Regions from separate parts of the Homo sapiens genome. Here region 1 is linked to region 2. Evidence: fine-mapped expression QTL. A gene starts in region 2. The other region holds a variant in brackets. All regions are shown on one strand. Distances are from middle to middle. Region 1 overlaps SYN1 (synapsin I). Region 2 holds the start of TIMP1 (TIMP metallopeptidase inhibitor 1).

Region 1 (5,378 bases), 25 kb after region 2:
TTTGTATTTTTAGTAGAGACGGGGTCTCATTATGTTGACCAGGCTGGTCTTGATCTCCTGACCTCATGATCTGCTCACCTCAGCCTCTCAAAGTGCTGGGATTACAGGCATGAGCCACCGTGCCTTGCCAACAATTTAATTTATAACATTATTATTGATAAATGTTATTGGCAATCCTAATTTGAATATAGGTAAAATTTCTATCAGAAGGAATATTTGATAATGTTAGTAATAATGACTTAATTTCTATATGTAATATATTCTGATTCATTACATTAATTCTGTCAATTCACATTAGAAATAGGTTTTTAATACTGGCAAAAATAGACAACATGAGTAACAGGATCTGATACATATTAGAATGGATCATGATTTAGTTTTCCTTGTAAGCATAAGGAAATTCACGGTAGACCCTATCACAAAGCAACTTCATGACTCCACGTGCACACAGCAGCCACACTCTTGATATCGCACTGCTGATAATATACCAATATTTAATATTATTGCAGTAGTTATGACTCTTCCCTCCTGCCCACTCTATTTTCCCCAAACTCACCATTTCTTTGTGATTGGGGTAGAAGGTCTGATCAATTAGAGGGAATTCTTCTGTCCCCAGTTTCTTATGCAGTCGAACCATCTGGGCAAACTATGAGAACCAGGAGAGCTGGGTCAGTGAGTCCTTCACCACGAATCTGTAAGTTTCTGAACACCCTCACTTCCCCAAATCGCAGACTGGTTTCAAGCTCCCACATACATGCATGAGCTGTTCCCTCTGCCAGTGGCACCCTTCCTGTTACTTACCACCCAGGGCTTGTCACAGAAGTTGTAGACAGAATGCAAGGAGTTAACACTGGGGATTCCAGCATACTGCAGCCCAATGACCAAACTGCGGTAGTCTCCGTTGCGTGCCATGCTGAAGGCGTGCTGGCGGATCAGCACAAAATCCGGCTTCAGAGACCTAGTGTGGCAGGGGTAGGAGTGTTGAGAGTTCCCCCAGAAGCTCCCAATCACTCTCGAAACAAAGACCAAGTTTTTAAATCTCCATAGCTCCCAGAAATTGCAAAGTGGTTTCTCACCTCTGCACACATGTGTGAGCTGTTCCCTCTGCCTAGTGCACCCTTTCTACCCTCTGCCCACCTGGTGATCCCCTTTAAGCCTCTCCTACCTGTTCCCTTCTCAGCAAGGTCAGCTTGCAGCTTACCGACACAGCTCTGACAACTCCCTGGTCACCATCTCTCAGACTGCAAGCTGTCTTCAGTGTTCTGCCCAGAATAAATTCTAACCTTGGGACCTTTACCAAGGCTGTTCCATCTGCCTAAAGCACTTCCCCCCTAGATATCTGCATGGATCACTCCTTCACCTCCATCAGGTCTTTCCTCAAATGTCTCTCCTGCAACCAGGCCACCCTATCCCAACTGCAGACCCCACCATCATCCAACAATTGCTACATCTGCTTTAGTGCTATATATATATTTTTTTCTTTTTTTTTTTTCTGTTGAGACGGACTGTTGCTCTGTTGTCCAGGCGCTGGAGCAATCATGGCTCACTGTAATCTCCGCCTCTCGGGTTCAAGCGATTTCCCTGCCTCAGCCTCCCGAGTAGCTGGGATTACAGGCACCTGCCACCACGCCTGGCTAATTTTTTTATTTTTAGTAGAGACGGGGTTTCACCATGTTGGCCAGGCTGATTTTGAACTCCTGGGCTCAAGCAATCCACCCACCTTGGCCTCCCAAAGTGCTGGGATTATAGGCATGAGCCACCACATCCGGCCACTGTTATGTTTTTTCTTAGCACTTTTACATTTTCTTATTTATTTGTGTATTGTGTGTATCTCACAGTAGAATGTAAGTTTCATAAGGCCCAGGTTCTTTTTCTTTTTTTTTTTTTGGCCTTTCAGCATGTAGAATATCTCCTGGCACACAGTAGGTGTACAATAAATATTTATTGAATATGAAGTCCTGAGAGCAGCATCTGGCATGCAGCAGATGTCTAGCAAATGTTTATTTAATTAATAATTGAAGGCTGGGTGTGGCGGCTCATGCCTGTAATCCCAGCACTTTGAGAGGACAAGGCAGGTAGATTGTTTGAGCCCAGAAGTTTGAGACAAACCTGGGCAACATAGTGAGGACCCCCCCCATCTCTACAAAAAACATAAAAATTAGCTAGGCATGGTGGTGCGCACCTGTAGTCTCAGCTACTTGGGAGGCTGAGGTGGGAGGATCACTTGAGCCTGAGAGGTTGCAGCTGCAGAGAGCCATGATTGTGCCAGTGCACTCCAGCCTGGGAGACAGAGCAAGACCCTGTCTGAAATATATATATATATATATATATTTTTTTTTAAAGTCTGACTTGTGGCATCCTGGGGTCCCTGGCTCTTTTTCTGAAGAAAAGTTGTCTCCCCACATTCCATGCCTAAGTTCTTGCCCACAGAAGGATGGGTGGGGAGGTAGGAACTTTCCCCCAGCTCTAAGGGAGAGTTCTTATGCCTTGCTCATAACACCAAGGTACCCTTCTTATACTCACCGCACGACCTTCACCCCATTCCGAAGAACTTCCATATCCACAGAGAATCCACCATTGGCATGGGCCACAAGGTTGAGATCAGAGAATTCGGCCTGGGAAGGAGAAAAAAACTGGTGATTCACCTACATCACACAAAAATGGCCACTCAGTTTGCAGTATGGACAACTGACCCCCAGGTCCAAATGTCCCAACTTACCTGTTCTACTTTAATGTCAATTTCTCCATGGATCTTTTTCCCTTTGAAGTATTTTGCCCTGGAGAGGAAAAACAACACATCTGTCAATGATGAAATCTCAGAAGGGAAGACAAAACACAGGCCCTTGACCCTTTTGCCCCTTCAATGCTACTAAAGAAACCACAAAGTGCCTTATAATTATTGAAATATTTTGAAAAAATCAAGAGTGCTTTGTGAATAATGTCTGTTGTAATCCTCATGGAGTTGCAAAAATATTAAAGGACATTGCAAACTGTAAAATGTGGCCTTACACTGCAGAGAGCAGGTATTTCCCAAAATTTAGTCTGCTCATCACATTGTCATTGTAAATTTTTTAAAAAAACTTCACAAAATTAGCAGCACTATGTAAATTAGAACATACTTTGAAATTGCATGGAGACCGGTAAACAGCAAAGAACCTTAGAAAACACCTATCTGGCCAGGTACGGTGGCTTAC[G/A]CCTGTAATCTCAGCACTTTGGGAGGCTGGAGGTAGGAGGATTGCTTCAGGCCAAGGGTTGGAGACCACCCTGGACAATATAGAGAGACCCCCATCTCTACAAAAAAAATTGAAAAAAAAAAAAAAAAAACAAAAGCCGAGGGCTGTGGCTCACGTCTATAATCCCACAACTTTGAGAGGCCAAGGCGGGTGGATCACCTGAGGTCAAGAGTTCGAGACCAGCCTGACCAACATGGTGAAACCCCTTCTCTACTAAAATACAAAATTAGCCAGGTGTAGTGGTGCATGCCTGTATTCCCAGCTACTTGGGAGGCTGAGGCAGGAGAATCACTTGGACCCAGGAGGCGGAAGTTGCAGTGAGCCAAAATGGTGCTATTACACTCCAGCCTGGGCAACAAGAGCGAGACTCCATCTCCAAAAAACCCAAAAAACAAAAACTAGCCAGGCATAGTGGTGCATGCCTGTAGTCCCAGCTACTGGGGAGGCTGAGGCAGGAGAATGGCTTGAGCCCAGGAGGTCGAGGCTGTAGTGAGCCGTGATTGCACCACTGCACTCCAGCTTGGGGAACAGAGCAAGACCTAGGCAAAAAAGAGAAAGAAATAAAGAGAAAGGAAGGAAGGAAGGAAGGAAGGAAGGAAGGAAGGAAGGAAGGAAGGAAGGAAGGAAGGAAGGAAGGGGAAGGAAGGAAGGGGAAGGAAGGAAGGAAGGAGAGAAAGAAACTACATTTCTCTGAAGCGTGCCTGTTTTTGTGTATTTTTTAGTGCCTGTGTATATGTCAGTGCCTGTGTCTGGCTGTGTGGCCTGAAGCATCTCTCTGCTCTCTGGCCCTTTCGCAAGGAGGAGCACATTCACCATGTGTGGTTGTGTGCTGTGAGAAACACAATGGCCATAGGTGGGCAGCTGCATCCGATAAGGAGGAGTGGATTGAGTGGTGCAGGCTGGGTGGCTCTAGAGAAGCCAGTGTAGCTGGCAATGATGGGGGGCAGGGAGGAATGCAGCTGAGGAGGAGAGGGAGCAACAGGAGGGAGGGGGAGTGGGAGCAGCAGTAGGAACATCACGAACTGCTATGTCATTGTCCCCGGGCCCGTCCCCAGCTGGGCTTGGTTTCCGGTGGCCTCCTCCCCCAGGCTCAAGATTTCTAGCCAACAGGCTGCTTGCTCCAGGGATGGAAGCTCATCCTCAATCAGGTTTATCATGGAAGGGGGATGAGGGGGAGAGACACTTTCAGGGCTACTGGTCACTGACACACATACAATCAGGGTCTTGGACAGACACACACACACACACACACACACACACACACACACGGCACAAATGGACCCTGGTGACTTGACTGACATATGCAAGAGACCCCAAGTACAGCTACTTCTTTTTCCTTGCTCTCTCTCTGACACACACACACACACACACACACACACACACACCATCGCTGACACTATCCCCTCAGAAGTGTTGAGAGAGAATCTCTCTCAGCCCTGCACATTTTTCATCTATAAACTGATGAGTGGGGATGATGAGGGTGTATCACTGTTTCTAAAACTTTTCTGACCATAAGTGTAGTTGGATACTGTGGTGGTCTGCTCAGGCCTCCTCTTCAGGGACAATGTACCTTGAATGGCAGCTACTGACAGCTCATGGCTGTGTCCCCACTGGGAATTGTCTTGTCACAGGGAACTGCCTTGTCCAAGGTTACACCTACTTCATGAGGGCATCCCCATGGTCTGGTCTATGAAGGGAAAGAAAGGCCAGCCTCCTTGCCTCAATCTGGGCTGACTCTGAAGGACCCTCCCAGCCCCAGGGCTCCCCCTAAGAGCAGCGGAGGCCCCTAAGGCAACTACATCTTGAGCCAGCCTCTTCCTCTGCTCAACCCAACCCTCCTCACAAGTGTTGATCCCAATGGCACACTCCAGTAAGCCTCCTGCATGCAAATCTCCACCTCAAAGTCTTTTTCCAGGGAACCCAACCTAAAACAGTGGGCCATGGAAGTCAAACTACAAGGGTGGTCTAATGCAATTCTGGAGCTGGGTTACCCAGCAGCCAGATGGCAGTGAGGACCCATCAGTAGTGGGAGGTGGGGCATAGATAGCCTCCGATATGCTGTAGCAACGCAAAGTGCTCTGCAGCAGGTCCGGGCTGTGGTGCAAGCAGGATGTGACTTAGGCCATATGATCCAGCAGATCCTAT
Region 2 (5,378 bases):
TCATTCCTGGGTAGGTCACTCAGCCCTTTTGTGTCTAAGTTTCCTCATCTGTATAATGAGAACATGAGCTATATCTAACTCACAGGGATATTGTGAGAAATAAGTTAGTTATTTTGGGAAAAATGCTCTACATGGTATCGGGCATACAGTAAGCCTCGATCCTCAAGAAGTGTTGGGTACTCTTATTATTGGCTTAACATCTCTTCCTTAACTAACATTAATGAACAAAGAGGCAATCGGGATTGATTAAATGAGATAATGTCTGTAAAAAGACTTTAGAACAGTGCTTTTTTTTTTTTTTTTAAATAGAGACAGGGTTTCACCATGTTGCCCAGACTGGTCTTGAACTCCTGAGCTCAAGCGATCTGCCTGCCTCAGCCTCCCAAAGTGCTGGGATTACAGGTGTGAGCCACCATGCCCGGCCAAGTGCTTTCTTAAAAAATAGATTTAGGCTGGGTGCCGTAGCTCACGCATGTAATCGCAGCACTTTGGGAGGCTGAGGTGGGCGGATCACCCGAGGTCAGGAGTTTGAGACCAGCCTGGCCAACATGGTGAAACCCCGTCTCTACTAAAAATACAAAAATTAGCCAGGCGTGGTGGCGTGTGCCTGTAACCCCAGCTACTGAGGAGGCTGAGGCAGGAGAATTGCTTGAACCCAGGAGGTGGAGGTTGCAGTGAGCCAAGATCTTGCCATTGCACTCCAGCCTGGGAAACAAGATCGAAACTCTGTCTAAAAAAAAAAAAAAGATTTAGAAGGCCGGGTGTGGTGGCTCACGCCTGTAATCCCAACACTTTGGGAGGTCGAGGCAGGTGGATCACCTGAAGTCAGGAGTTCGAGATCTGACCAATATGGTGAAACCCCCGTCTCTACTAAAACTACAAAAATTAGCTGGGGGTGGTGGTGGTGTGGCTGTAATCCCAGCTACTCAGGAGGCTGAGACAGGAGAATCTCTTGAACCCCGGAGGCGGAGGTTGCAGTGAGCTGAGATCGCGCCACTGCACTCCAGCCTAGGTGACAGAGCAAGACTCTTGTCAAAAAAAAAAAATAGATTTAGAGGGTACAGCTGCAGTTTTGTGACATGGATATATTACATAGTGGTGAAGTCTGGGCTTTTAGTGTCCCCATCAACCAAATAGTGTACATTGTACCCATTAGGCAATTTCTCATCCCTCACATTCCTCCCACCCAGAATAGTGCTGGATACGCAGTAAGCACTCCATAAGGGCTGCTGGTAGTTTTTGTTGTGTTCTTGTTATTGGGCTATCATCCCTGAGTTAATCAAACTTAATTAGCAAGGGAGTATGGTGAGTGAATGAGATAATTTATACAAACACTTTAGCACATAGTACACAGAAAGTGCTCAATAAGTGGCTGCCATCATCACTACAATTATTATTATTGATCTATCCTCCTCGAATTAAGGATGTTAATCAGAACCCCAGGGAAGGTTCCTGCATTGTCAGAAAGCTGGTGGGCAAGGATTGCCCCACCCCACCCCCCACCAGGGGTACAGGTCCATGGGGAGGGGGCAGGGCAGGATGGGGTGGGGATTAGTTTTCTACTGACCCACTCACTTGCTTCTTTCACCATCATTCATGGCCACCCCCTTCCCAATGCTCATTCATTCACCCGCACCATTCCCTGCTTGCTAGGACGGTGCCACTCCTGAGTTACAACCCTGGTGCCAGGTAGCCTCTGTTTGAATCCCGGCCATGCCCTGTGATCTTAGGAAAATTCTACAGTTCCTCTACGCCCCATATTTCCTCATCCGTAAAACGGGAATAAGAACCGGTACCCATCTCAGAGATTTGTTGTGAGCTTTGAGTGAGATAAACTATGCTGAGTGCCTGGTATACAGTAGGTGCTGTATAAATGCCGGCTATTTGCCTGTGTTATTTGAGACCCTGGCTTTGGCTCCTGGCCACCTGAGTTCCAGTCTCAGTTCTGCCATGTATTGACTCTGTGATCCTGGGTAAGTCACTTAACCACTCCGTGCCTCAGTTTCCCCATTTTGTATTCCTCCCCTTTCACCTGCCTTATCTCCCTCCACTGCTGCTACTTAATTTGTTTCCTCTCTGCCACCCCTCACCAGCATGTCAGACATACAAAACAAGGGATTTTTGTGTGCTTGGCACACAGTAGATGCACAATAAATGTTGAAGGGCTGAACTAATTTGGGTTTGAGTCATAGGGAGCTTGGGGGATGTGGGTGATTGGATAGATTCTGGAGACTTTAGGGGACTGGGCCGGGGGAAATGCGGCCTCTAAGCTCTCCGCTGAGGCGGCTTGGAAGGAATAGTGACTGACGTGGAGGTGGGGGAGGTGGCTGGCCCGGGCGAGGCCCAGGGAGAGGGAGAGGAGGCGGGTGGGAGAGGAGGAGGGTGTATCTCCTTTCGTCGGCCCGCCCCTTGGCTTCTGCACTGATGGTGGGTGGATGAGTAATGCATCCAGGAAGCCTGGAGGCCTGTGGTTTCCGCACCCGCTGCCACCCCCGCCCCTAGCGTGGACATTTATCCTCTAGCGCTCAGGCCCTGCCGCCATCGCCGCAGATCCAGCGCCCAGAGAGACACCAGAGGTAAGCAGGGCCCGGGGTGGCCCAGCAGGGACCGGAGCTGGGCTGCAGCTTGGGTGCTGGCCACCAGGCCCGTGCACTCCCGTGCCAGATGCCTGTCTACTCAGCTTGGCCTGCGGGTACCAGGACCCTGGGCTAGTCTAGGGGGAAGAGGGTCGGAGGCTGGAACTGCTTTCCCAACCCCGAGGCTCCAAACTCCCTAGAACCCCTGACATCCGCCCCCAATTCCCCCAAACCCATGACCCCCTAATATCACAAATGCTTTCCAAATCCCCCCGCAAATTCCTTCATCCCGAAATTTCCCTCATCGCCCCCTAAATACCCACCGCTAACCCCTGCAGCTCCCTAAACTCCCCCAGCTCCCCAATCCCCAGTTCCCCAGCTCCCAAACTTCTTTTGCCCTCAAATTCCTCAAGTATCCCCATTGCCTTAAGCCCCCAAATTCCCCCAACCCCTTCAACCTCCAAACTCCCCCAGCTCCCTAAACCCCCAACCTCCTCCAAATTCCTCAACCTCCCTAAATTCCCCCAGCCTCTTATATCTCTTAATATACACAACCCCTAAACTCTGCCGTCTCCAAACTCCTCCAGCCCCCAATCCCAAATTCCTCACCCCCAAACTCCTCAACCTCCAGAATTCCCCAATCCCCTCATTCCTCAAACTTCCTCAGCCCCCTTCTCCCCCAAGTGCCACAACCCCATAACCCCGCAACTCACTCAGTCCCTCAATAATTTAAACTCTCCCAACTCTCTAAACCCTAAATTCCTCTGCGCTCCCCAATCCCCTTAAAATCCCTAAGCTTACCAACCCCTCAAGCCCAAATCCAGCCCCCTAATCCCCCCCATAGGCTGCCCCGGGGCAAGATGGGGTGGATGACCTGCCCAGGTCAGCAGATCAGCTGGGCCGGGGCCTGCCTGACATCCCCCTTCCCCACAGAACCCACCATGGCCCCCTTTGAGCCCCTGGCTTCTGGCATCCTGTTGTTGCTGTGGCTGATAGCCCCCAGCAGGGCCTGCACCTGTGTCCCACCCCACCCACAGACGGCCTTCTGCAATTCCGACCTCGGTGAGTCCTCACCCCACTCAGCCCACACACTCTGCCTTGGTTTCCCTTTCAGTCCAGTGGGGCTCACCATGGCACTTACCTCTAGAATGATTCCACTCGCCCCTGCACTTCCTCTGCTTTAGCCACACTGGCATCCTCACACTTCCTTGAGTACTCTGTGCCCAAGCCCACCACAGGATCTGCATGCTGGCTGCTCCCTCTGCCTGGTACACTTTCCCCCCAGGTATCCACATGGGTGGCTGCCTCAAACGTCACCTTCTCAGGATGGCCTTCCCTGGCCATCCTGTTTAAAATTTTAACCCCTGCCCCTTAGTACTCCTGATCTCCTGTTAAACAGAAAAATATTCAGTGATACTTGTTATAACACAGTAAGGAAGACCATATTCAGGACCATGGTGATGGGTATAGGAACCACTGCAATGGGATCTTGCAGTCGGTGGGAGAGATTGGGCTCAACACTGAATATAGCATGGGCCAGTGGGAATGTGTAGCTAAGGAGCAGTGTGAGGGTCTGTGGGTGGAAATTACTAAGAAGAAACATCAGGGGTAAGGGGGATTCTGGCTAAACCGACGTAACAGGATTCTTGCTGAAGGCAGGCCAAGGGGAATCAGACATCACCTGGGGGATGGTGGAAGATGAAGAACCCAGTCAGATAGCAAGGATGATCAGGTATTGAGGATGATCAGAGATTGAGGATGATCAGAGATTGAGGATGATCAGGTATTGAGGATGATCAGAGATTGAGGATGATCAGGTATTGAGGATGATCAGAGATTGAGGATGATCAGGTATTGAGGATGATCAGAGATTGAGGATGATCAGATATAGAATATAGGGGTTCTTGCTAAACTGACTTAGCAAGGCTCTCGGCTAAAACTGGATTTTACAAGGAAGTGCACAGATGGGCCTAGGAGGAGGTTCAGGAGCCTGAGTAAAGTTTGGTCAAGCAAAGAATCTTTGTCAGCCCCTTACCCAGGTCTGTAATTCCCCATTATACTTAATGTCTAACATTCCATATCCTTATTTTGTTTGTTCTTAGCCTGTCTCCTCCTGGCTAGAATGTGAACTCCACAAGGAAAGGGATTTCTGTGTTTTGTTCACTGTTGTGTCCCTAACACCCAGAACAATGTCTGGCACACAGTGGGCACTCCCAAATATTTGAGGAGTAAATGAACAAATCAATGTATGAAAATGGCTTAAGCAGTGCCCGGCAAAGAGAGACACTCAACATACAGATGAATCAATGAACAAATGTGTAAATCACTTTGTGTGCTGTCTGGCATCCAATAACCCCTATTTATGTATGCGCTTTGCTGGTATGATGATGATGATGATGATGATCTTATTTTTATTGGCTCATGCAGTCCATTTGACTCATATTTCCCTCCTCTCCTGCAGTCATCAGGGCCAAGTTCGTGGGGACACCAGAAGTCAACCAGACCACCTTATACCAGCGTTATGAGATCAAGATGACCAAGGTATCCCCTGCCCCCGCCTCTTTCCCAGCATTTTCTAACATCTTCCTCCTGGTCAAAACAGAAACTTCTGGCCACTGGTTGGTGCGAGAAAGTTGGCTGTGATCTTGGGATGCTATATGACTTCAGGGAAGAACCTGGAGTGGGAGGATTATGTCAGTAAAAGAGACACTTCCCCTCATCCATCAACAGATGTATAAAGGGTTCCAAGCCTTAGGGGATGCCGCTGACATCCGGTTCGTCTACACCCCCGCCATGGAGAGT

Evidence for each region. PIP is the estimated chance that this variant, and not a neighbour inherited with it, causes the effect.
Region 1: its variant is fine-mapped to the expression of TIMP1 in whole blood (TOPMed, PIP above 0.99).

The regions. Positions count from the first base shown.
Region 1 is chrX:47,604,422-47,609,799 of GRCh38, forward strand. SYN1 (synapsin I) reads right to left here. Exons shown (of 13, transcript NM_006950.3): 2 at 2,720-2,777; 3 at 2,524-2,615; 4 at 802-958; 5 at 557-646. Among named protein-coding and RNA genes, the nearest start is that of SYN1, 13 kb to the right of the region's middle. The variant G/A (reference allele first, on the strand shown) is at 3,195.
Region 2 is chrX:47,579,899-47,585,276 of GRCh38, forward strand. It overlaps TIMP1 (TIMP metallopeptidase inhibitor 1), which reads left to right and starts at 2,538. Exons shown (of 6, transcript NM_003254.3): 1 at 2,538-2,576; 2 at 3,510-3,638; 3 at 5,038-5,117; 4 at 5,307-5,378. The coding sequence starts at 3,518. The region is part of intron 5 of SYN1 (synapsin I); the gene reads right to left. RefSeq lists a cis regulatory region at 1-68 and silencers at 2,186-2,335, 2,396-2,495.